3 separate regions of the Homo sapiens genome follow, and regions 2 and 3 are each linked to region 1. Evidence: fine-mapped expression QTL. A gene starts in region 1. Each other region holds a variant in brackets. All regions are shown on one strand. Distances are between the middles of the regions. Region 1 holds the start of DRC3 (dynein regulatory complex subunit 3). Region 2 overlaps DRC3 (dynein regulatory complex subunit 3). Region 3 overlaps TOM1L2 (target of myb1 like 2 membrane trafficking protein).

Evidence for each region. PIP is the estimated chance that this variant, and not a neighbour inherited with it, causes the effect. A credible set is the group of variants that fine-mapping cannot tell apart.
Region 2: its variant is the best candidate, but not a certain one, in a credible set for the expression of DRC3 in esophagus mucosa (GTEx, PIP 0.60).
Region 3: its variant is the best candidate, but not a certain one, in a credible set for the expression of DRC3 in left ventricle (GTEx, PIP 0.60).

The regions. Positions count from the first base shown.
Region 1 is chr17:17,969,024-17,977,202 of GRCh38, forward strand. It overlaps DRC3 (dynein regulatory complex subunit 3), which reads left to right and starts at 3,839. Exons shown (of 14, transcript NM_031294.4): 1 at 3,839-3,951; 2 at 4,829-4,939. TOM1L2 (target of myb1 like 2 membrane trafficking protein) reads right to left here and starts at 3,377. Exons shown (of 15, transcript NM_001082968.2): 1 at 3,239-3,377. The coding sequence starts at 3,290. RefSeq lists enhancers at 2,870-3,439, 3,811-4,130 and a silencer at 3,081-3,130.
Region 2 is chr17:17,999,683-18,007,861 of GRCh38, forward strand. It overlaps DRC3 (dynein regulatory complex subunit 3), which reads left to right. Exons shown (of 14, transcript NM_031294.4): 10 at 4,681-4,812; 11 at 6,501-6,571; 12 at 7,342-7,465. Among named protein-coding and RNA genes, the nearest start is that of DRC3, 31 kb to the left of the region's middle. The variant C/T (reference allele first, on the strand shown) is at 4,772.
Region 3 is chr17:17,891,514-17,899,692 of GRCh38, forward strand. TOM1L2 (target of myb1 like 2 membrane trafficking protein) reads right to left here. Exons shown (of 15, transcript NM_001082968.2): 3 at 7,083-7,161; 4 at 2,148-2,297. Among named protein-coding and RNA genes, the nearest start is that of SREBF1, 59 kb to the left of the region's middle. RefSeq lists an enhancer at 6,241-6,290. The variant A/G (reference allele first, on the strand shown) is at 4,786.

The DNA of each region.
Region 1 (8,179 bases):
TTGAGGACAGGGATCAGAGAGGGACCAGCTCTCCTTTTTTTTTTTTTTTTGGAGACAGAGTCTCACTCTGTCGCCCAGGCTGGAGCGCGGTGGCACAATCTTGGCTCACTGCAACCTCTGCCTCCCAGGTTCAAGCGATTCTCCTGTCTCAGCCTCCTGAATAGCTGGGATTACAGGCGCCCACCACCACACCCGGCTCATTTTTGTATTACTAGTAGAGACAGGGTTTCACCATATTGGTCAGGCTGGCCTCCAACTCCTGACCTCAAGTGATCCACCACCTTGGCCTCCCAAAGTGCTGGGATTACAGGCATGAGCCACCACAACCAGCCTACAGCTGCTGTTTTTAATCATTAGCTTTGTAGTTGTTATTTTATTTCTGTATTCCCCCTCCCTCCCACCAATCCCCCACCCCCGCACATTCTTTTAAAAGAATACTAACAACACTAAATATCAAGAAAGTCACTTTGACACTTTGTCACAACAGTACGGAATATACATTAGAACCTAATTCTGTCCATTAATCATTTACCTGAACTGAACTGAAATGACCTATTGGCTACCTGGCAGTGGGGAGCCATCATCATCTTTAGTCAAGCATCTTATGAGCAATGGTGAATCCTGGGGCCTGGTAGGGTATTTTCCTTCACAGGTCACAGACGGGCCAGTTGTTTCACATATCCTCTCCAGATAGAAAATCCAACCCTAACTTAAATATTCTGTTATTAACAGTGGCAGTTTCAATTTACTGAGCTTCTACTATGTTCCAGATACTATGCTAAGTGTTTTCATACATTATCTCATTTAAACTACATTACTCTGTGAATAGGAATCTTTCTCTCTCTCTCTCTCTCTCTCAGAAGACTGACAAACTAAACCTCAGAAAGCAACACAATTTTCTGGGGTCACACAGCCAAGAAATGGGGGCCAGGTCAAAATTCAACTTAGGTCTCCCTGACAGAAGTATCAAGCTCTTTCCACTTGCTATATATCCCTATATCTCTTATATTTGGTTTTTTGTTGTTGTTGTTGTTGTTTGTTTGTTTTTTGAGACAGAGTCTCACTCTGTCGCCCAGGCTGGAGTGCAGTGGCACAATCTCAGCTCACTGCAAACTCCGCCTCCCGGGTTCAAGCAATTCTCCTGCCTCAGCCTCCCGAGTAGCTGGGACTACAGGCGCATGCCACCACGCCTGGCTAATTTTCTTTTTTTTTTTGGATTTTTAGTAGAGACGGGGTTTCACCGTGTTAGCCAAGATGGTCTCGATCTCCTGACCTTGTGATCCGCCCGCCTCAACCTCCCAAAGTGCTGAGATTACAGGCGTGAGCCACCGCACCCAACCACATTTGTATTTTAAATCCCCTTTAACTTCTACCCCTCATTTACTACCTTGTCATTTTAAAGGTGTAGAGCTTCCTATTATAAAGGGGACAGAAAGGAAAACAATTCTCGCAAGTTTTCTGGCTCCCTCCATTAACTGGCTGGAAATTAGTTTTTGGAGTGTGGCTGCCATGCAAGAGCACCTGAAGAGAGTGGAAAAGGACATGGGGAAGAAGTAAGGAAGTGAGAATCCAGAGACTCTCCAGTGGGCAGCAAGAGACAAGATGTCAAAAAGGTGGGAAAACACTCTTTTGGGGTCCCTCATGCATTATAAAAGATACTACGCCAGAAAGTAAAGAAAGGCTCCTAAATGCTAATTAGCCAACAGGAGAGACCTCAATAAGTTTATAGGCTCCACTAAAGGCTGGAAAGTAAGCTAAAATTTCATAAGCAAAGCAGAAAATAAACAAATCACTACTGCTGAAATCAGGCCCATAAGAACACCAAAGATCCTGGCTCATAAAAGACGTTTTACCAGTCCTTCAACCAACCAGGAGGAATCCAGTTTTCAAACAAACTAATCAGCATTCTTGACTGATCAAGTGGCATAAGCCACTGCCTTGGGTAAAAAGGCAAGTTGCTTTCTTAGTAAGGAAGTCCCATATGGTGGCCATTTCAGTATTCCTTTACCTACACTTTGGGCTTTCCTTATCCATGATTCTGGCCATCTCTGGTGTCCCCAGGTGTCCACATCCCCCCTATAGGATTAACAGATAATGCTGAGTACCATTCTCTCTACATTGCCAACAAAAGATTTCAGCTTTGGTAAACTTAATATGAGGTGGGGGAGGAAGCAACAGTCAATGTGCAGAGTACTACAAAGAATATCAAAACTTGAGAACTTTAAGGGATCTATCACATCTCATCTCCAAACACTTTGACAGACAGGGGAACTTCAAACCAGAAAGGGCACAAGGTCATATGGAGTCACTGACAAAACCACTGCTAGAGTCCAGGCTTCCATGATTCCCAGTCCAGGGCTCTTATCATTAAATAACACAGCCTCCCTTCTTTCCTGGGAGGCACTGCAGGCATGCCATCCCCCTGCCAAGATAATCACCCTCCAAGAGCCCCTCCTCCTATCCCAGTCCCTCCTACAGCACAGCTGAGTTGCAGCTCAAATTAGCAAGTCCCGGAGCAGGGGGCATTTCTGGGAGGGTGCCCAGTCTGAGGGTTGCTGGTACCGAAGAGGAGGGACAAAGATGGAGAAGAAGGTGACATCCCACAAAGGGTTTGGGAGAACTGGGTCCTTGGGGCAGTGGCAGTGAGCCTGCTGGGCTGGATAAAGACACATGCAGTGGCATCTCCCAAAGCGCATTGGGGAAGCAGACCAGCAGTTGGCACCACCTCTAGCAGCAAAAGGAAGGGCTGAGCCTTGATGGGCAGGGAAGCCTGGGGCATCTCCGAGTCCAAGTTGGGCCTCAGGGGTGCCTCCTGGCAGAGTGGCACTGGCGCGCCCGTGAGGTGGCACCAGTGCCCGGGAGGAGGCCCGAGGACACAGATGCCCTGCCTGCCCGTGGGATAGCACCGGCACCCGGCGAAGGCCCAGCCCCCCCGGGAGGTGGCACCGGCGCCCGGCGAACGCCCGACGACCAGGATGCCCAACCCGCCCGTGAGGTGGCACCGACGCCCAGTGAAGGCCAGACGACCAGGATGCCCAGCCCGCCCGTGAGGTGGCACAAGCGCCCGGCAAAGGCCCGACGACCAGGATGCCCAGCCCGCTCGTGGAGTGGCACCCGCGGCTGGCGGAGGCCCAGCCCGCTCGTGAAGTGGCACCGGCGCCCGGCGGAGGCCCGCGGTCCTCACCAGCCGGATCAGCGGCCGCCGTTGCCCAGCCTCCTGCCCCACACGCGGCCTTACCGAGGCACTGCCCCACTGGTGTGCTGAACGGGTTCCCCAGGAGGAACTCCATCTTGGGTGGACAACACGCAGCGGCCCGGGCCCCCTGTCTGCCACCTAGGCCTCCGCTGTAACCCGCCGGACTCCCGTCCTGACTGACACTTGCCCCCTCCCCACTCTCTGGAACGCCGAGCTTAGGGCCTTTGGCCCCGCCCCCTTGCCGCGTCTCTATTGGGGGACACCTACGAAGCCCGCCTCCTATTGGTCGTTACACCTCTGTCAGCAAAGCCCCCACCCACCCCGCAGCGTCCGATTGGGCGGAGGAGCGAGCTAGGTCACCGGAGTCCCTGTCAGCCGTGGCGGCACCTCCCCTGGCCCGCCCCCAAAGGGGAAGCTGCGCATTTTGATTCCTCTGTATATTGGTCAATCTAAAGGATTCTTACTATTATTGGACAAAAGACGAGTCAATCACGCAAATGGACGGAACAGAGGTGAATCTAGGAATATCCCCGCCCATAGAAAGTACTGATTGGAGAAACATTTGTTTTCTCTACGGCTGGTTGGTGTAAGGAGTGTTTCACCACACGGAGATGTGGTCACGTGACTTGTCAACTTTCACCCAGGATGTCTCCCTTCTGACTTCCCCTTAGCAACCAAGTCGCGGCGCTTGGTTCCCCAGCAACCGGGAGACGCGTCTGCTGCGTGGAACCGCCGAGTTCCCAGCGCTTGAGAAGGTGAGACCTGGGAGCTGAGGCTCCCGGAGGACTTGCAGGGACAGATAGTGCCCGACGTAACTCTTTCCTGTGACCTTTTTCTCGGAGAACGCCGGCCCGGCCCTTCTCATTTATAAAATGAGCACGTAGGTCCTCTCCCAGCCACTTTACAGTCGTGTGAGACAGCCAAGACACTTTAGTCCTGGGCTTGTCAAGCTTTTGAATAAAAAAAAAAAAAAATACTAAGGAAGCATTTCCCGAGGGAGCAGGGCCAGAATGGATTTTTAAGGGGTTCCGTCTTCCAGCCTCCTTTCATAGAAAGAGAGGTACCCGGTCCACTGATAACTTTTCCCAGAATTTAGCCATCATAACTGACCTCATAACTATCAAATGATTTCATCTTGGTACTGTATATACCGCTTTGGATGTGAATACGGCTACTCAAGTTCTGTATCCGTCTCTGTCAGTAACTCATTGTACGACTTTGGACAAGTTCCTTTACCTCCCTGGAGCCTCAGGTTCCCTAGCTGGGAAATAAGGGCATTAGGACTCCCTTTTTATGGCCTCCGGAGCTTACATGTACTTAAATAATGCATGTGCACTGAGCACACAGTAAGCATTCAGTAAGTGATTGATTTTATTCTTTTTTAAGAAAAATTTTGTTCATTATTTATTTATTTATTTATTTTTTATTTTTAAAAATGGAGACAGGGTCTTCCTATGTTGCCCGGGCTGGTCTTGAACTCCTGAACTCAAGCAGTCCTTCCACCTCGGCCTCCCAAAGAGCTGGGATTACAGGTGTAAGCCATCTCGCCCAACCAATTTTCTCCTTATTAATTCATGGCCAATAGGGACTATAGTTTTCAGATCCTGTTGACTTCAGGTTATCATTTCCCAGGAAAATTCTGGATCTGTTATCTGTGAGGAGGCCACTCCGTTGACAGTTGTGTAAAACTCTGCTGCTTTCCCCAGCTCCAACCTCTCTGGTCTTCAACAACACTATCATCAGGCAAGTCAAAGGGGACCCAGGTTGGGTGGTAAACTATAAGATCCCCATAGAAGAGGACTGTTTGGGCCTTGGCCCTGAACCCAGGACAACTGTGAGAAACACTGTGAGCTGTGGCAATGATAGTCCCCAGTACCCTGGATACAGTTGAGTCATGATTAGGAAAATGAACTCTGCCACGTGCTAAGTGTATGAAGTTGGGCATGTTAATTAACCTTTTTAACTAGCTTCTGTTTTCTTATCTGGATATTGGTGAGTATTAGCCCTACATGTAAATTAAGTTTCTAGAAATTTCTCCCATCTACATCTTGCTAACACCCTGGTCATCTCTCACCTCAGTACTTTTGCAATTCTCAGTACTGTTGCTAGAGTGAGCTTCTTAAAAACTAAGATCTGATCACATTGCTTCCCTTATTTTTTTTATTTTTTGAGATGGAGTTTCGCTCTTGTTGCCCAGGCTGGAGTGCAATGGCACGATCTCGGCTCACCGCAACCTCCGCCTCCCGGTTTCAAGCGATTCTCCTGCCTCAGCCTCCAGGGTAGCTGGGACTACAGGCATGCACCACCATGCCCAGCTAATGTTGCTGCCCTTATTAAGCCCTAGGTGCTTTCCAGGGATTCTAGGATAATAACAAAACTCCCACAGACCTCTCCAAACTTGCATCACTTCAGCCAAAGTGCAACAAGTCTGTTCTCTCCCACCTAAAGGGCCTTTCCACAAAGTTACCTCCTCCTTCTTTCCTGCTTGTCCTTCCAATCAGCCCTGTCTTCCTTGGCCAGGCCAGGTGCCCCTAATGTACAATTTCATAGTTCCCTACACCTACAAATTGTCATGGTTTGTAGTTAAATATTTGTATTATTGTTTGATTCATGCCTGAAGCTGGGTTAAAGTCCGTCTGTTTTATTCACAGCATATAGCAGTTACTCACTACCCATGTGTGGACTAAATACGTGATCTCACACAAATGCAGAAGGGAGAAATTATCCACCTTTTACAGATGGGAAAGCCAAGGCTTAGATAGGTGAAGTGAGTTGCCAAAAGATGCACAGTCAGGATCCAAATCCTGCTCTGATGTGCTTAACAAATAGCATATGTAATAACAATCCCCCATTTCCTAGCATAGCAATTGCTGGGCTTGACTGAAAGCAAACTTGATCTGTCACAGGTACCAGGCCCTGATGAAGTAGGAGGGATAAGTCAGTTAAAGTTTTGAAATCAAAATTAAGAGTCATTTCCCAAAGTATAGCACCTTTTTTTTTTTTTTTTTCTTGATGGAGTCTCGCTCTATCACCAGGCTAGAGTGCAGTGGTGCACGATCTCGGCTCACTGCAACCTCCAACTCCCTGGTTCAAGCGATTCTCCTGCCTCAGCCTGTCAAGTAGCTGGGATTACAGACATGCGCCACCATGCCCAGCTAATTTTTGTATTTTTAATAAAGTCAGGGTTTCACCATGTTGGCCAGGATGGTCTTGATCTCCTGACCTTGTGATCCGCCCACCTCGGCCTCCCAAAGTGCTGGGATTACAAGTGTGAGCCACCGCGCCTGACCTCCCCACCCCCCCCCCAAAAAAAAGGCCAAACACTTTGCAGAAAACATCAGCCAAATATAACACATTAAAATTCCCCCAAAGACAAGTTGATGACAAGTTATGGGAAACCGCAGGGGAAGCCATTGCATAAGAGTGGGGAGCTAGAGAGAGGCCGAGGTCTGGAACTGTCTTTGGGGGTAGAATCAGTCACCCCAACGAGGTGGAGCCAGTGTGAACAGATTGGAGAGAGTGGGAGGAAAAGGACCAAGGTCTTGGGAGGACGGAAGGCACAGGTGGAGAAGGGGTAGGGGTTGAAGGGTGTGGAGGCTATGCCTCCCCTGGAAGCAAGAGAGAAGTGTGCACAAGAGCTCATTGGGACATTTGATGAGGGACAGTTCAGGGCAGAGGATGCATATTTGCAGAAGCTGCATCCAAGTGGATGGTCAGGGAGGCAAGAGGAGGGCAGTCTTAGAGGGAAGTCTCTAAGACCAGGTAACAGGATTGTATGGCCCAACCTGGCTTTTCAGCAGACACCATCAGCCCTGCACCAGGAGTTTCTCCAGCAGTGCCCAGTGGAATGAAAAACAGAGCACAGGGGCTGCCTAGCATCAGGGACCAGCAGGGCAGAAGGACAGGAGGTTCAGGGAGGCCCAGATGCTGGGAAGGCATGTAGACAAAGATAGGAAGTAGGGCCAGCAGGGAGGCAAGAATCAGGGGTGGAAAGTGGGGGAAAATATCCCTCCTGGATGTCCTCACCAAGAGGGTTGATAAGGATGAGAATGTGGTCCAGCCACGAACGGCAGCCTGGAGTCAGCCTCACATTGTGACTGACCAAATCTACAGATCCCCCCTGTGCTGTGGTGTCTCAGTCAAATCCCTCTGGACCATTAGCAACAGAATCTACTGGAGGCTGGGCACGGTGGCTCATGCCTGTAATCCCAGCACTTTGGGAAGCGGAGGCAGGTGGATCACCTGAGGTCAGGAGTTTGAGACCAGCCTGGCCAACATGGTGAAACCCCGTTTCTACTAAAAATACAAAAAATTAGCCAGGCGTAGTGGTGGACACCTGAAATCCTAGTTACTCAGGAGGCTGAGGCAGGAGAATCGCTTGAATCCGGGCGTTGCAGTGAGCTGAGACCGCGCCATTGTGCCCCAGCCTGGGCGACAGAGCGAGACTCTGTCTCAAAAAAAATAAATTAATTAAATTAAAAAATAACCTACTGGAGCTAGCTTAAGTAGAAGAGGATTTCATGTGAGAAACAGGAAACTCTCATGAGGCCTGGACCTAGGGACATTAGGGACTGGAAAGCCAGCAAGAAGGAGGCAGCCTCTGTCTGTGTCGATCTGTCTGTCCTTTGTCTTTTGTTTTCTGATTCCCAGGTTCCCATCTCTGCTTTTCTCTGTGCATCTGCCTCCTCCCCCTCTTGCTCTCTGCTTAACTATGTACCCAGCCAGCCCACACTCCCTATTCCTCCCCAGCTCAAGCAGCCAGCTCCGATGGGCACTCTCATTCCACAGCCTCAACTTCACATCTCCCACGGGGAGGACGTGAATGGGCAGCTTGGGTCAGGGGCTCCCTCTGCACCAGGAGAAGCTTGTGGTGTGGTGTGGGGCATACACACATGACGGCCTGGAGGGGGTGAGGTGCTCAAGGAAGAGGAGCTGCAGGCTGACAGGCCTGGCTGGGGCTGCCCAGGGAGCACAGTCAGTGGT
Region 2 (8,179 bases), 31 kb after region 1:
TCTCCTAGCCTCCATTTCCTCATTTGCAGAACAGAGATAACCACCTTGAAGAACTGTAGTGAGAAACAGAGAGGGAAAGCACTTGTGCAAGGCCTGGAGCAGAGTCAGCCCAAAAGGATGACAGCATGTCTGTGTGTAGTCAGCTGCACTCTCGAATGAGTAGTGTGTGCACATGGCACAGCCTGAAGAATGGCCACTGGGGGATACGGTCTCCCTCCTACTCCTGTATCTCTGTGTGTGTGTGTGTGCGTGCGTGCACACGCGCACATAGCATGCCCTATTCTGTACTTTGCTTTCGTGTGTGTGTGTGAGCATAGCATGCCCTGTTCTGTACTTTGCTTTCCTATGTGTGTGTGCGTGTATGCATAGCATGCCCTGTTTTGTACTTTGCTTTCGTGTGTGTGTGTGTGTGTGTGTGTGTGTGAGCATAGCATGCCTTGTTCTGTACTTTGCTTTCCTATGTGTGTGTACATGTATGCATAGCATGCCCTGTTCTGTACTTTGCTTTCCTCTGTGTGTGTGTGTGTGTGCATAGCATGCCGTTCTGTACTTTGCTTTCACGTGAGTGTGTGTGTGTGTGTGTGTGCATAGCATGCCTTGCTCTGTACTTTGCTTTCGTGTGTGTGTGTGTGTGCGCGCATAGCATGCCCTGTTCTGTACTTTGCTTTCACGTGAGTGTGTGTGTGTGTGTGTGTGTGTGCATAGCATGCCTTGTTCTGTACTTTGCTTTCCTATATTATGCATCTTGGAGAGCCTTCCAAAATGAAAAAGTAGCTTCTTTTTTTTATAGCTAAAATATCGCATTGCATGGGTGAGCCATAATTATTTAGCCAGTCCCTGTTGATGGACAGTTAGGTTTTTTCCCAACCTTTTGCTCTTTTAGTGTTCCACTGAATAAGTTGGTGCAAGTTTGACCTGCAGGATGAAGTCCTAGAAGTGGAACTGTGCATTGGTTTTTTTCATGGTTATTGTCCAACTGTAACCTACAGAACCTGTACCTTCCACAGCCGTCATCAGGCCAGTGTCACAGGCTTCCTCATGTTTGCCAATCTGTGCACCCTGAGTATGCATTTATTTTCTCTTAAGTGGGGATGAGCAACACGTTTTACATGTTTTACAACCATTTGTGTTTTTTATTCTGTGAATTATTTGTACTTATATTTTGCCCTTGCCCACTTTTCTATTTGGTTTTTGGTTTCTCTCTCTCTTCTTAAATTATTTATTATTATTATTTTCAGAATAGGGTCTAACTCCATTGCCCAGGTTGGAGTGCAGTGCACCATTATAGCTCACTGCAGCCTTGAACTCCTGGGCTCAAGCAATCCTCGTGCCTCAGCCTCCTGAGTAGCTGGGACTACAGGAACACAACACCACACCTGGCTGTTTCTTTCTTTTTTTCTTTTTCTTTCTTTTTTTTTTTTAGCTAGTCAAATTTAGCAGTGGGAGACTGTATACCAACTTCAGTGACACCAAATTTAATAAGTTCTCATAACCTACTACCATCAGACCAGACCTTTCTTTTTTAAAAAGTTATTACCTGGCTGGGCGTGGTAGCTCACGTCTGTAATCTCAGCACTTTCGGAGGCCAAGGTGGGTGGATCACCTGAGGTCAGGAGTTCGAGAGCAGCCTGGACAACATGGTGAAACCCCGTCTCTACTAAAAATACAAAAGTTAGCCAGGGTGGTGATGCATGCCTGTAATCCCAGCTACTTGGGAGGCTGAGGCAGGAGAATCACTTGAACCCAGGAGGTGGAGGTTGCAGTGGGCCAAGATCATGCCACTGCATTCCAGCCTGGGCAATAGAGTGAGAGTCTGTCTCAAAAAAAGAAAAAAAATGTTATTACTTTGTAGGAGCTCTTTGTAGATTGTGTCAGTGAAATGAATGGCAAATATTTTTCCCGGTTTGTGTTTTATCTTGCAATGTTGTCTGTGGTGCTTTTGCCATTCAGAATGAAAAATTTTTTTGGCTGGGGGAGGTGGTTCACAACTGTAATCCCAGCACTTCGGGAAGCTGTGGCAGGAAGATCGCTTGAGCCCAGCAGTTTGAGAGCAGCCTGGGCAACATAGTAAGACCCCATCTTAAAAGTAAATACATAAATAAATTTAAAAGAATTAAAAAATTTTTAAGGTAGTAGAGTTTACCAATCTTCTGGTTATATTTGGCAAGATCTCAGATTATTTGTTAAAAATCTCCCAGGTTTGGCCGGACGCAGTGGCTTATGCATGTAATCCCAGCACTTTGGGAGACCAAGGCGGGCGGGTCACCTGAGGGCCGGGAGTTTGAGACCAGCCTTGCCAACATGGTGAAACCCCATCTCTACTAAAAATGCAAAAATTCACTGGGCATGGTGGCAGGCACCTATAATCCCAGCTACTTGGGAAGCTGAGGCGAGAGAATCGCTGGAAACTGGGAGACAGAGGTTGCAGTGAACCAAGATCACGTCACTGCACTCCAGCCTGGGTGACAGTGTGAGACTCTGTCTCAAAGAAAAAAAAAATCTCCCAGGTTTTCTGCTAGCACTTTTATGGTTTAATTTTTTACATTTGAATCTTCATCAGGAATTTGTTTTCATGTAAGGCTTGAGGTAGGGATCGAGCCTGGTTTTTCTCCAGACAGGGTAGCTATTATTATGTCATTCGCCCCCTTCAATCATGCTGTTACTCCATCCTCCTTCATGACTAATACCAGGCATCAACAAAAACAAGCCAAAATCACATCTGGTGTTGGTGGTAACCCAGGCCCTTTGCTAGTAAGCAGCTGGTAGTCAGTGCTGTTTGGACCCCAGGTTGCCATATACCCTCTGAGCACCCCCTCATTCCAAAGGGCTCAGCATCTATTTAGCAGTAGCTTCCACTTGCTCACTGGGGTTCTGTGTGGGTTCAATTCATCTCCTCAAAGACTGGAACTGTCTTTCCTTGCCAGGGTCTTTCCTGGCCTGTGCCTGTGATAGGCCTTTTATAGGAGACTCCGGTAGCCGAGCTCCACTGTGCACCAGGTGCTTCCTGTACACGGCCTCTGATCCCCAGGACCCCGTGAGGCAGAGATGCTTCTCCCCATTTACAGTGAGGAAACTGAGTCAGCGAATGAAAGTGGGTCTCTCAAGGTCACACTGTTAAGTGACCCAGGCAGGATTCAAATTCAGGTTCACCTAACTCTGAAGTTGTAAGGCAGGTAAATTTTTTCCTCTAGCTTATCAGGGTCACTGACTGGGACCAAGAATTAAACTGACATAAGACAAACGAGAAAAGCATACAAATTTTATTGAGTAATTTGTACATGTACATGGGAGCATTCACAAGCAAAATGAAGGCTCAAGAAGCCGTTAGGGCCGAAAGCTTATATACTTAGTTGGACAGAGAGTAGTGAATTGTGAGAACGTGACAAGACAAAGAGGTTTGGGCTAAGGCAGTTCATCGTGGAGAAGTGACAAGGCAGATGAGCGTTAGTTTAACAAGGTTTGTTCACACAGATTCCCCTTGGCCCGGACTCCCTCCCTCTGATGATAAGAATGGCTTCTTGGCTGGGCACAGTGGCTCACACCTGTAATCTCAGCACTCTGGGAGGCCGAGGTGGGTGGATCATGAGGTCAGGAGTTCAAGACCAGCCTGGCCAAGATGGTGAAACCCCGTCTCTACTAAAAATACAAAAAAAATTAGCCGGTCATAATGGCAGGTGCCTGTAATCCTAGCTACTCAGGAGACTGAGGCAGAGAATTGCTTGAACTCAGGAGGCAGAGGTTGCAGTGACCGAGATCGTACCACTGCACTCCAGCCTGGGTGACAGAGTGAGACTACGTCTTTAAAAAAAAAAAAAAAAAAAAAAAAAAAAAAAAGAATGGTTTCTTTCCTCCTGGTACAGGGAGGGCACCTTTCCCATGGGAGATTTAACTTCTGCTTTCAGGAAGAAAAAGGGAGGTCAGGGTGTCCTCTTTGCATTTTCTGTTTTTAAGTATCTTTTTTTTTTTTTTTTTTTTTTTGAGACAGAGTCTCACTCTGTCGCCCAGGCTGGAGTGCAGTGGCACAATCTCGGCTCACTGCAAGCCCCACCTCCCAGGTTCACGCCATTCTCCTGCCTCAGCCTCCCAAGTAGCTGGGACTACAGGCACCCGCCACCATGCCTGGCTAATTTTTTTTTTTTTTTGTATTTTTAGTATAGATGGGGTTTCACTGTGATAGCCAGGATGGTCTCAATCTCCTGACCTCATGATCCACCCACCTCGGCCTCCCAAAGTGCTGGGATTACAGGCATAAGCCACTGCTCCCGGCCTTTAAGTATCTTTAACTCAAAATAATCACTATGCCAAAGCGGCATATTTTGGTGTGAAATGCTCTGAACCCCATGAAAGCCATGGCTCCTTCTACCCTGCCTACCAGCCTCTAATAAAAACCTGAGCTTACAGGGAGTGAGCACTTGCTAGTGCTCAAAGAGCCTCACATGTGTTCTCTCACTTGTGTCAAGGGTAGGGGCTATCAATCGCACTTTACAGACCAGGAAACTGAGGCATGGAGAGGGTAGGTAGCTTCTACACGCTTTCAGAGCCAGCAAATGGCAAAGCTGAGACTTGCACTTGGGCAGGCTGACTCGAGTCCAAATTCTTACCCACAAAACCAAATTGCCACCTGCCATTATCTAATTACACTTAGTTGTTGATTCCTAAAGTGCAGTCTATTGTTTCTAGAGTTTAAGTGCCATTCGAGAGGAGTTGGAACTGCCCAACATTGAGAAGATGATCCTAGAATGCAGTGCTGACATCAGTGAGTTGTTCGATG[C/T]GCTCATGACGCTGGAGATGCAGCTGGTGGAGCAGCTGGAGGTAAGGCTGGGCCCTGGGCACAAGTGCCAGAATCTGGCGATGCAGCTGCACATCCATAGGTGAACTGTAGCCTTCATGGGCACGCCTCTGCTGGAAACGTCCAGCACGACTCAGCGTGGCAGGCTGTAGCTTTCTTGCTCATCAGTCCTGTTTGCTTTTATTACATTTTAATCATTTACATTGGAAGTGATTCTTGTGGAAAATGAGAGGTGAGCTCATTCTTCTGAAATGGTCCCCCTATCCTGGAAGTCAGTGGGGAGAGGTTTTTGATTAGACCCCTGGAGCTATCCGGGTACTCTAAAGGCAAAGCGCACCCCCACTTGGGGACCAAACAAAGACCCCTCCGCATTGCAGCCTGCAGTTGCCGCTTCTCAGGTGACGTGAGGAGGCTGCAACTCAGCACTAAGTAGTGAAAATGAAAAGCGCCGCTGTCTGAAATTCATTAGCAGCCAGAGTATGTGTTACAAGGCAGCGGAGGCTGGGAGTCTGAAGTGGTGTGATGAATTGAACCTCATCGGATGCTGCTGTGGCTGGGCCAAGTGATAGCACCTAATCAATTCCTCACACGTCAAGTGACACCTCAGACATGGGATAGATTTCCCCATCACATCACAGGGCAGGTGCTCCCTCCCTGCTGGAGAGCACAGGCACTGCAGAAGCAGCGCACAGTGCCAGGGGCGAGTGAGGCAGCAGCTCCCAGCCTTTTCAGGCACGGAGATTGCCTTTCAACATCCAAACATTTCCCAGAACCCATGTGCCATCCTACTTGTATTACTGGTGGCCAGAAAGCCACAAGCGCAATCATGCTTTTCAATGACCCTATTTTTATTCACGAGAACAGCACATACATGTGTTTGAAAATTATGTGAGGTGCTCACTCTGCAGACAGTACTCACATTCCTATAGATTCCACCCCTGCCCACCTTGCAGCCCCTGGAGTCTATAGCAGATGGGAGTGGGGCACTCCGAGAGTGGCAGGCCTGGAGATCACATCTTCCATTGTTCCTTCAATCAACACTAACTCCCATTTGGGCCTTAGGTGCCTTGCTAAGCACCACAAAACAGCAACTAACTGAAAGAGATCTGGAGTGCCAGCCCGCTCCTACTGAGGGCCTCCTCTCTGTCAGGCACCTTGCAAAGCATTTTGTGTGAAGTGACTCATTTAACCTCACCACAACGCCACAACGCAGGGATTATGCAGGTAACCTATTTCCCAGATGAGGAAGATAAGGCCCAAGGAGGTGAAATGCCTTTCCCAGAGTTACACAGAGTGCTGGAGCTGGGAATACTGACCCAGGCAGTCTAGCTCTTAACAGCTCACTCCACTGTTTCCCTGGAGGTGATGCACAGATGTCACTGGGAAACCCAAAGGAGAGGGGGTTGGCTGTGTGTGTGTGTGTTGGGCAGGCAGGTAAGGGGAGTAAGACCAGGACAAGTGTTCCTGGCAAAGTTCCGGTGACAGCATTAAACATTCAGATGGTGAGGGAGTTAATATGGTTGGAGAACAACAACTTTAGAGAGAGCAGAGGGGTCAGTTCACAACCATCTGCTCAGGAGGGTCAAGATGGGTGGTCTTTATGCTGAAGGTCTGTGATTAGAGGAGCTGGTTGCTAAATTTTGAGGAGTACCTTTTGCTCTGTGCTGGACATCTAAATATGCATGTTAACTGTGTTCTTTAACATTTCCAGGAGACTATAAACATGTTTGAAAGGAACATTGTTGACATGGTAGGACTGTTTATCGAAAATGTCCAAAGCCTATATCCTTTCTGTGATGACCTTCCCCATGGGGAGGTGCTACAGAGCCCCTGGGCTTGTCCCGGCCTCTGGACAAAAGAATGTTCCACAGGGTCTGAGGAGGTTTCCCGACCCTCAGAACAATGATGGCCTGGTTAGAGCTGTGGTTTGGATGCCCAGAGGGACAACATCCAAACTGTTTGCAGTAGGCTCCCAGCATGATTGTTCTCATATGAGTGATGTTCACTAGGAAATGACGCCCCCTGTGTTGCAGGCAAGCACACTCTGGGGTTGAGGCAACCCCCACGTGGAAGACACTATAAGGAGTACATCAGGTGAAATGTTAGGGTGAGGAGCCAACATCGGAGCATGGCCAACCCTTCTTCCACCCGAACTCAGGGCACTCCACATGGGGCAAACTGCTGTGCTCCAGCTAGCAGCAGCCCTGTGGTCCTGCCCTCCTGGGGCTCACAGTCCCTCAGGGAGACAAGTTGTAGAGGCAACAAGTGGTGCCAAATGCACAGGGTGAGAAGCAGTTAACCCAGAGGCCAGGAGCCTCCATGCAGGAGGGAGAGAAGAGTGTGATGGCAGGGGCCGAGGGTCCGTCCGAGGTGTGGGGCAGGGGCAGGGAGTCGAGGAAGGCCCAGGGTTCGGAGCTTGTGAGTGGACGGTGCTGCCAGCCAGAATTTCCGAGCTCGCCTTGGGCCCTTAAAGTCTGTCTCCCGCCGTCTGAGAGCATCAGGGACGCGCCGGGCCTGCTCCTCCCGGGCCTTTGCTTAACTCGGGGCTGCACGATGGCTCAGTGCCGGGACCTGGAGAATCACCACCACGAGAAGCTCCTGGAGATCTCTATCAGCACCCTGGAGAAGATTGTCGAGGGCGACCTGGACGAGGACCTGCCTAACGACCTGCGCGCGGTAGGCGGGGCGGGCTGCTCGGAGCCTGACAGATGTGGTCCAGCCCAGCTCTGTGGCTGGACTGAGGCTCTGTGAGTAAGCCTGACAACCTCCCAGAGCCTCAGTGTTCTCATCTGCAAAAGGGCACACTAACCTGCTTTACAGGGTTGCTGGCAGATAAAATAGGCTAACAAAGCACCTGGTGGGGCACCCAGTGGGGCCCAGTTAAAGAGGAGCTCATGATAATTAGATGGTTTCAACTTTCCAACAGGGTCGTTTCCAAAAGTTCAATTATGTGGAGGCTTCTGGCACTTTCTAAGAGAAGCAGTTACAGGTAGAGGTTGAAGTCTGAGATTTCCCCTGGAGGTCTTCTTAACCTTAGAGTCTGTATAATGAGTACTGTGGGGGTGTTGGAACCACCATTTCTGATCCTGCACAATGCCATCCGGTTTGCACCAGCACATCCACTGATGAATGGTCACAAAATCAGCAGGGTCGGCCTGAGGAACCTGGCTCCATCCCTGGGGTCTGCACGCTAAGAAGGCTCTCCCGGATGTCTGCGCTGGGTCCCGCGGCAGCATGTCTATGTCTCTGGAAGGAGTGTGGGCATCAAGGGCCCAGACAGAGATACTATGTTGTCAGGGCCCAGACAGAGATACTATGTTGTCAGGGCCTGCTTTAGTGCATGCATCATTCACTCCACTGCCAGTTTCTCAGCTTCTCTCTGTCGCGACA
Region 3 (8,179 bases), 78 kb before region 1:
GTCCCCACACAGTCAGCAGGGACAGTGCAGTTCACACCCCTTGTGATAACTGTGCTTGCCATGCGGTAGGCTAGCCACCCTGCTGGGCCCGCCACCCTGCAGACAGGCCTCGGGGTCAGAAAGCTCTACCACAGGACATGCTTTGTGAGAAGAAGCCACCATTTGTTTTCCTAACATGAATTCCTGGGGGTATTGAGGTAGGGGAGTGCAGCCCCAGAAGGAAGGGCTGTGGTAGAGTGGGGTGTATGAGGAAGGTAAAGTGCATGCACACGTGTGTGTGTGTGTGTGTGTGTGTGTGTGTGTGTGTCAGAGGGAGACAGAGAGACAGAAGGATATTGGGTGGGCAGAACAGGGACGAGGGACAACCCTAGGGTAAACAGGGGAAGGCCTCCCAGAGTTCCTCAGAATTAACTACATTCACTCATTCATTATAAAGAAATACTGAACACCCGCTCTACACATTACACTGCTCTAGACCCTGGGGACAGCATGTCCCTGGGTTCTTAGGGAACGAAGAATGAGGCAGACAAAAGAAATGTTAGCAAAGCCAGTCTTGAAGACCACAAAAAAGGATGATGTGAGACAGAGAGTGTGTGTGCTTAAAACCAGCTGGAGGCCTCCGAGGCACCTGTGAATGAGGAGGAGGAGTCACTGCTCTGAAAGCTGGGGAAAGACCTTTCAGGCAGAGGGAAGTGAGCACAGGGAATGGACAGAGGCTCCTCTCCAGCTGCACACCTGACCCATCTGAGAGCCCGGCCTGCCCCGGCACTCCACTTCCTGCATTCTCCGCTGCCTCTGCCTGGTTGCCTCCCTTTGCCCTTGCTGGAGCCCCACGCCCAGCCCTAGGTTTGTCTCTCCTCTTGGCTCCTGCAGGCCCTTGTCTTGCCTCTGCCACAGCACTAATCACCCAGGCTGGATGTGCCTGTTGACTTATGTGCCTTCTGTGTCACCACGTGCTCTGTCTAAAACCCAGGTCTGCACACATCCCAGCTCAGAGCCCTTCGATGTCTTCCCACTGCCTACAGGACCAAGCATGCCTCCTCAGCATGCATGGCCACTGGCCTCTGGGCATCCTTCTGGTCCCATCTCCTGCCTGCTCCCCCACCCCAAGCCCTGCCCCCAACATTCTTCATTACACCCCCTTCCCCACATAGTGGTCTCTACAACATGTCCACAAATTATTTGATCCTCCTTTCTTCAAGAGATGGAGTTTATTTCCCCTACTCTTGAGGCTAGGCCTGGTGACTCCCTTCTAACAAATAGAATATAACAGAAAAAAATGGTATGTGACTTCCAAGGCTAGGTCATCAAGACCTAATCTTGATGTCCACATGGTGATAAACTCAGGTCTCTTGCCAATAGTCATCAAGGAACTGAGGCTTCCTGCCAACAGCCATGTGGGTGCACCATGGTGGAAGTGGAGCCTCCAGCTATAGTCGAGCCTTCAGACAATGCAACCTCAAGAGAGACTCCAAGCCAGAATTGCCCAGCCACCTGCTCCTGAATTCCTGGCCCACAGAAACTAAGAGATAATGAACATTTTCCGTTTGAAGGTATGTTTTGAGGTAATTTGTAACACAGTGAGTGATAACAAATACAACCCAAATATGCCAACTGCTCTCTTTGATGCGTCTGGGCCTTTGCACATGCTATTCTCCCTGCCTGTGAAGTCTCTCCCACTGACTTTTCCACCAAACTCCCCATCATTCTTCAGGGTCCAATGGAAATGTCATCTCCTCAGTGAAACATCCCTTAACACCATCCCCAGCCCCTTACCTTGCTCCGCCTGACCCAGAGTTGGCCCCTGCCCTGTGACCTCACCAAACCCGCACGTAGCTCTAACATGGTTCTTCCTACTCCAAGTTTTCTCAGAGGCCTGTTGAGGCCACCCTACCTGCCTTTGTGAGCAGCAGAGGGATGGCACCCAGAAAGCTTCAGGAAGGCTCTGTTAACTGGCTGGAGAGCCATCAATTAGAATTTCATTCCAGTGGGATGAGAATTTTTTTTGAAGTATTTTGCACCAAATATTTTAAATGTAGAAGTCTCCATTTTTTTTTTCCTCCAAATGGTGGGAGAGCATGAGGACTCATCAATAAGAGACTTCATCTTACTCTGTTCCAACAAATTGGGCAAGGGGTCCAACCTACCTGGATCAGAGCAAGCACTTTGTCCTGTACAATGGTGGGAGGGTTGTTCTTGGGAGATATAATTTTGACCAGAACACTGTCGATGAAATCTCGGTTGGCCACAAGGATGTGGAAGCGGTGGCCACAGTTCTTCACACATGTCTCCAGCACCTGATGTGGGGAGGGAAGGAAAAGGGTCACCCCAGTGGGAGCTGGAGAAGACACTGGGAACTGAGGAGCGCAGCTGAGTTTCCACCATCCCCTCTGTCTTGCTCCTAGATCAGCTTTCTGACACGTCTCCTCCAGAGCCAAACCTGCATGGCACACGCATTCCCACACTCCATTCTCCAGGGATGACAGCAGCCCCTTACTGACTGAAGTCTCCTGTCCCTGCACAATAATCAGGCAATTAGTTGGTAATTGAGGCACCAGTTTTGCATGAGAAGGATGCTAGTGTTTTAATGGGATCAAAATGACTGAGCGGTCCCTGAAAATTAGCATTTTAACTCCTCTCTCTGGGCCTCTGGGTATAAGGCATTAGCCAATCGGACATGGGCTCTGTCACAAGAGGAGGCTGCTATGACAGCTTGAATTGCTTAGTGAGTTACTGGCCCTTATATGTGAGAAAGCAAATGCACACACACATCCCCCACTCAACCCTGCTTCTGCAACCAAAATTGGCAATGACAAAGGATTTTCCACTCTTGACAAATGGTTTGTGGACCTCAGCTGCCAGGTGACTTTAATGTCCATGTTCAATTCAGACCCTGCCTGCTCCTCCCTTGTCTGGGAAAACAAGTGACACAGGCTTTAGCTGCTCAGAAAAGCCCAGCATACTGGTTCTGGCCAGACGGTCAGTGAGAGCTTGAACCTCAGCTCCACCACTTTCTCCCTGAATGGCCCAGGACAGATCTTTCTGAGCCTCAGCATCCTCATCTGTAAAGCAGAGATGATGAGCTCTCCCTTGCAAGATTGTTGGAAAGATTAGCAAGAATACGTTTAAAGCATAGGCCGGGCATAGTGGTTCATGCCTGTAATCCCAGCACTTTGGGAGGCCGAGGCAGGTGGATCACCTGAGGTCAGGAATTCAAGACCAGCCTAGCCAACACGGCGAAGCCCTGCGTCTACTACAAATACAAAAACTAGCCAGGCTTGGTGGCACATGCCTGTAATCCCAGCTACTTGGGAGGCTGAGGCAGGAGAATCGCTTGAACCTGGGAGGTGGAGGTTGCAATGAGCTAAGATCGCGCCATTGCACTCCAGCTCAGGCAACAGAACAAAACTCTGTCTCAAAAACATACATACATACATACATACATACATACATACATACATACATGCATGCATGCATGCATAAAATAATGCACATAGCAAAGTATCCTGCATAGGGGAGGTGCCCAATAACTGATGACCATGATTACGTGATTACTGTTCAGAAGGCTGCTGTACACACGACGAAGGGGATGGCCTCTTATCCTCCCATAGGACAGGTATGTAGCCTCTTGGAATTCGGAGGTGCCAACTGGGAGTGCTCTGAACTTCCCAGCACTGTGTAAACCAACCCATAGGATTACCTGGCCCTTCCCATGCCAACAGCCCCCAGTGCCACAGTCTACTAACTGGGGAATGCCTCCTCAAAACGATGTCACCAGCAACAGGGAACATTTCTGACTACCTCAATTATTCTCATTTGCCCAAACTAATCCAACCACTGGTTAACTTCTGCAGCCATCCCACAGGGCTAGGTCCAAGCAAGTGGGCTTTACCTGGACAAAACATAGCCGTAAAGAAAGGTCCATAACTGGAACACTGACTGAATGCGACTATATGCCAGGCACTATGAGAGATCCTTCCATAACATATGGAGTTTTATCCAATTCTCACAACTAATTACTTCTCCTTAAGTGGACCTTAATATCCCATGTTTTAGAGTTAAGAGGTTTAGAAAGGTGAAGACATTGATCTAGGTACAAATTGTCAGTCAGTGCCAGAAGGAGCACAAGAGCTGTGATTAGCCTTCTCTGGAGCCCCAGTCTCCTCGCCCACCTTGAGGCCACAGGGCCATCCCTCCCTCACAGCTCTCCTCCAAGCAGCCACATCAGCTAAGAGTGCCTCAGATGACAGGCAACATGTGTTAGATTTATTGTTCCCCCCTTTGGTCCTTGAAATAACCCTGTAAGATGGGAATCATCCCATTTTAGAGATGAGGAAGCTGAGGATCAGAGGTACCATGTAACTTAACCTAGGAGGCCAAAGCTGGGACTCCCCATGCCAGGCAGCTCCGCAGCCAGCCAGAATCGTTCCTTGCCTTGCTGCTGGCTGCACCTTAGGAGGCCCCGGGTTCCTCTGGGCTTGCCAAGGAAGATTCTGGAGGTTAGCACCCTCAGGGCCTCTGAGTGACCACAGGTTTTACTAAGCCAAGGAGGCATTTTCCTTTCTGAGTCTCTGCTTGTGCCTGATTCTGGTAACCGTGAGGTAATTGGCATTCACTCTCTTGTAGTGATCCATGGGGGCACTGAAATGAACCAGAGGGGTTCTTTCTGTTCTCAAGGGCCTTACAGGCACCCTTCTCTCTAGGATTCTCTAAAACCTTCCTCCCAACTCAGGCAGTGGGGTGTTGGGGTCAAGGCAGATGGCAAGAAGTATGCTTTATTTTGTG[A/G]GAAGCAGGTGGGAAAGGTGAGGCTGCAATTATGAGTGGGGAAGAGAATTGGAAAAACAGGCATAGGTCTGAGGAGTAGAGCAGCCTGGGGCTCCACTCCACTCTCAGAGCAACAGTGGCAGGAACCACTGCCCGCCATTAGGGAATACATGCTTAGTTTCTCCTGCACAGCAGTCCTCAAGGTCAGTGTGTCCCAGCCTGGTCTTGGAAGTGCCCTGGACAGAGATGCATGTGCCACAGAGCAGCCCCAAAGCCTATCTGAGCAGGAGATCTAGGAGGTCCTCCCTGGGCTGGCAAGAGCCGCTTTAGGCCACCCTGCCAAACAGGACCCTGGCAGTTTTGTCCCTATAGGTTGAAAGGCATGAAACATACAGTGGTAATTTTCCAGAATGAAGCCAAAAGCCATGGAGAAAGTAAACGGGGCCTCTAAGCAATCAGAAGTGATGTTTAAGTCCACAAATGAAGACACAAGCAGAGAGCCCCTCAGGGCTTCTTACTAACTTATTTTGGGTAAATATTAACAATTTTGGTGGGTACAGATATGAAGTCCGGAGAGGGCCACAGGAAACAGGAGGACTGAAAGTGACTAAGAGAGTAAGTGAAGCCCTATCAGCAGACGTGAGACCATGCAAAGCGCGCTAGGATGGGGCCTCAGTGTAGGGACGGCAGCCCTGCGCATTTCACAGGCCTCCCAAAGGCATGGCTGGGTTTGTAGTGAAGACCTAACCCAAGGAAAGGTCAAACAGTGTCCATCATGCCCTGCTAGAGGAAGGCAAGTAAACGCAGAGTTCACTTTAGAAAGATTTCCATCCAACACGATTACCATGAAGTTGGGTGTGTAAATGGAGATGTTTTAGATAGCAGTAAAATTCCCTGATATATTAGAGCTCATTCCCTCGTGATATGAGTTATTGAAAGCCACTCGTTTTGGGCATCACTCCTGGTTTAGTGAATGCTGTGGCTCAAATTCTGAGAAAAAATAAAATAAAAGCTTCAACTCCCTATTTCTCAACCAGTCTTTTCTCCTTTATTATTCAAATCCCAATTCCCTGGCAGAACTCTCTTAATAAGTTTTGGGGTTTCGCTTGGGCAAAAAATCCAAACAGGTTCTCTGCTTTAAAAGGAAACATGGTTGTTTTGGATAAATAACCTACTATTTCAAAGCCCCAGAGAAGTTGACCTGGTGACCTGTTACAGTTTCTATTTTAAGAACTCACTGTGGCCCAGATTTTGCCACATCTGAAAAACTGTTAGTTCTCAAGACAGAAATAACACCTGAAGTCGTCTTTTTAAATTCTCTGACAGCTTTGGTAAGGGCAAAAATCTGGTCTGTTCCTTCCTGAAAAAAATCACTTGGCTGACTTTTTCAAGAGTCTTTGTAGCTATTTTCAGTTTTTACCCCATGCAAAAGACCACTTTATGATGGCAATCCACAGCTCAGTACACCTCACTAGCTGTGAAGGCTGGGTAAACCTCCAGACCTCTCTGAGCCTCAGTTTCATCATCTGTACGGGGGAGGATAGTAAAATCTCTTTTGGAGGGTGGTTGTAAACATATTCATTAATGTCCAAAAAGTTCAGCACAGTCCCAGGCAGGGGCAGGTACTCAATAGGTGGAAGTTAACTTTTTTTTTTTTTTTTTTTTTGAGACGAAGTCTCACTCTGTTGCCCAAGCTGGAGTGCAGTGGTGCGATCTCAGCTCACGGCAACCTCCACCTCCCGGGTTCAAGCAATTCTCCTGCCTCAGCCTCCTGAGTAGCTGGGACTACAGGCACCTGCCACCATGCCTGGCTAATTTTTGTATTTTTAGTAGAGACTGGGTTTCACTATGTTGGCCAGGCTGGTCTTGAACTCCTGACCTTGAGATCCTCCCGCTTCAGCCTCCCAAAGTGCTGGGATTACAGGTGTGAGTCACCGCGCCTGGCCAACATTTTTACAAAGAGGAAACTGATATCTAGAGAAGGAGTTGGTCTCAGTCTCAGAGCAGGCTGGTGACAGAAAAGGGACCCACCCAAAACCTTTAGCTCCTCTGCTCTGGGCTTCTGTACCTGACAGCACTGCACACACCTTATCTTCTGCTCGTATACATTTACCAAATTGAAGCTCACCACTCCCTGTTTCAGAGGACAGGAAAACCCAAAGGCAATACCAGAAGGCTTTGCTGGACTCCAGTGGCCCAGGCACCAAGCCATTCAGAGGTTGTGCTAAGTGGGCAGAGGGAAGGCCCTGTGAGGGGGGCAAGGCCAGGAGCAAGGAGTTCCCCAGATGACTTCTCTCCTCAAGGAGAATAGCACTCACTGTTAATGCCAGCATCACCTCTCTGTAGTTCCGGTTCCCGTTGAGCCGCTTCTTCAGGGCTCGAATGGCATCCTTTGGCCTGGAAAAAAGAACAGACATATAAAGATACTTACAATCCCACTTGAGGACACGATCCTACAGATATGTGAACTAGTATATATGCAAGACTATTTGCTGGCTGCAGCATGTTTGTAAATGTAAAAGACTGGGAACAAACTGAATGTCCATCAATACACAACAGGTTAAATTAAATCATTGACACAATGGAATACTATGCAGCTGCAAAAAAGAATAAAGAAACTCATGCACCAATATACACCAAACTCAAAGACATGTGCATAAAGTTCTTTGCATAACAGTGTACAAAGCTTGCTATTAGTTGAGTTATAGAAGGAAAGCAAACATACATAGCACAGGTGCCAGCGTAGGGAAGAGACTCTCTAGAAAGAGCTATAACAACCTGGTAACTGTGGCTGCCCCTAAGGAAGGGAACCAAAGGCGGAGGGAGGTTTTTCACTGGACTGCCTTTTTGCAGACCTCTTGAATTCTGTATCACATGCAAGTATTATTTATTCAAAACCCTAACTAACCCACTGGTGTGTGGGTACATAGAAGAGAGTTTTTCCAGAGAAACCATATGAGAGACACAGAAGAGAGCGTGCCAGGTCCTTGTGAGCCCTGGATGCCCGGCTCTTCCTGAATTCCATGGAACTCCTTTTCCCAGAGAAAGCTTAAGTGAGTCTCCTTAAAACCCAACAAGTTTTGTGTTTTTAGGTGACAGATCTGAGGTGGATTCCCAGATAAAATCTTGCAGAATTATAGACAGTACTCAGTTCACAAATGGGCTCTGTCCAAAAGTTGGAGTGGAGCTGTTTGGAAGTTGGAGTGAGTTCTTCCTTAATTACTCTTATACCTTAGAGTCAGGATTCCCAGGCAGCCCTCTAAGTATACATATTACATGTAGGTCTTGTGTCTAACATGTAATTTAATTTATTCTAACTCAGGATTCAACAAAGCTGTGGGCCTAGCAGCTGCCCCTGGCACAAAGCCCCTGTGCTGACCTGACCCATCACCCTATGCTCTGGGGAGCCCTCAGT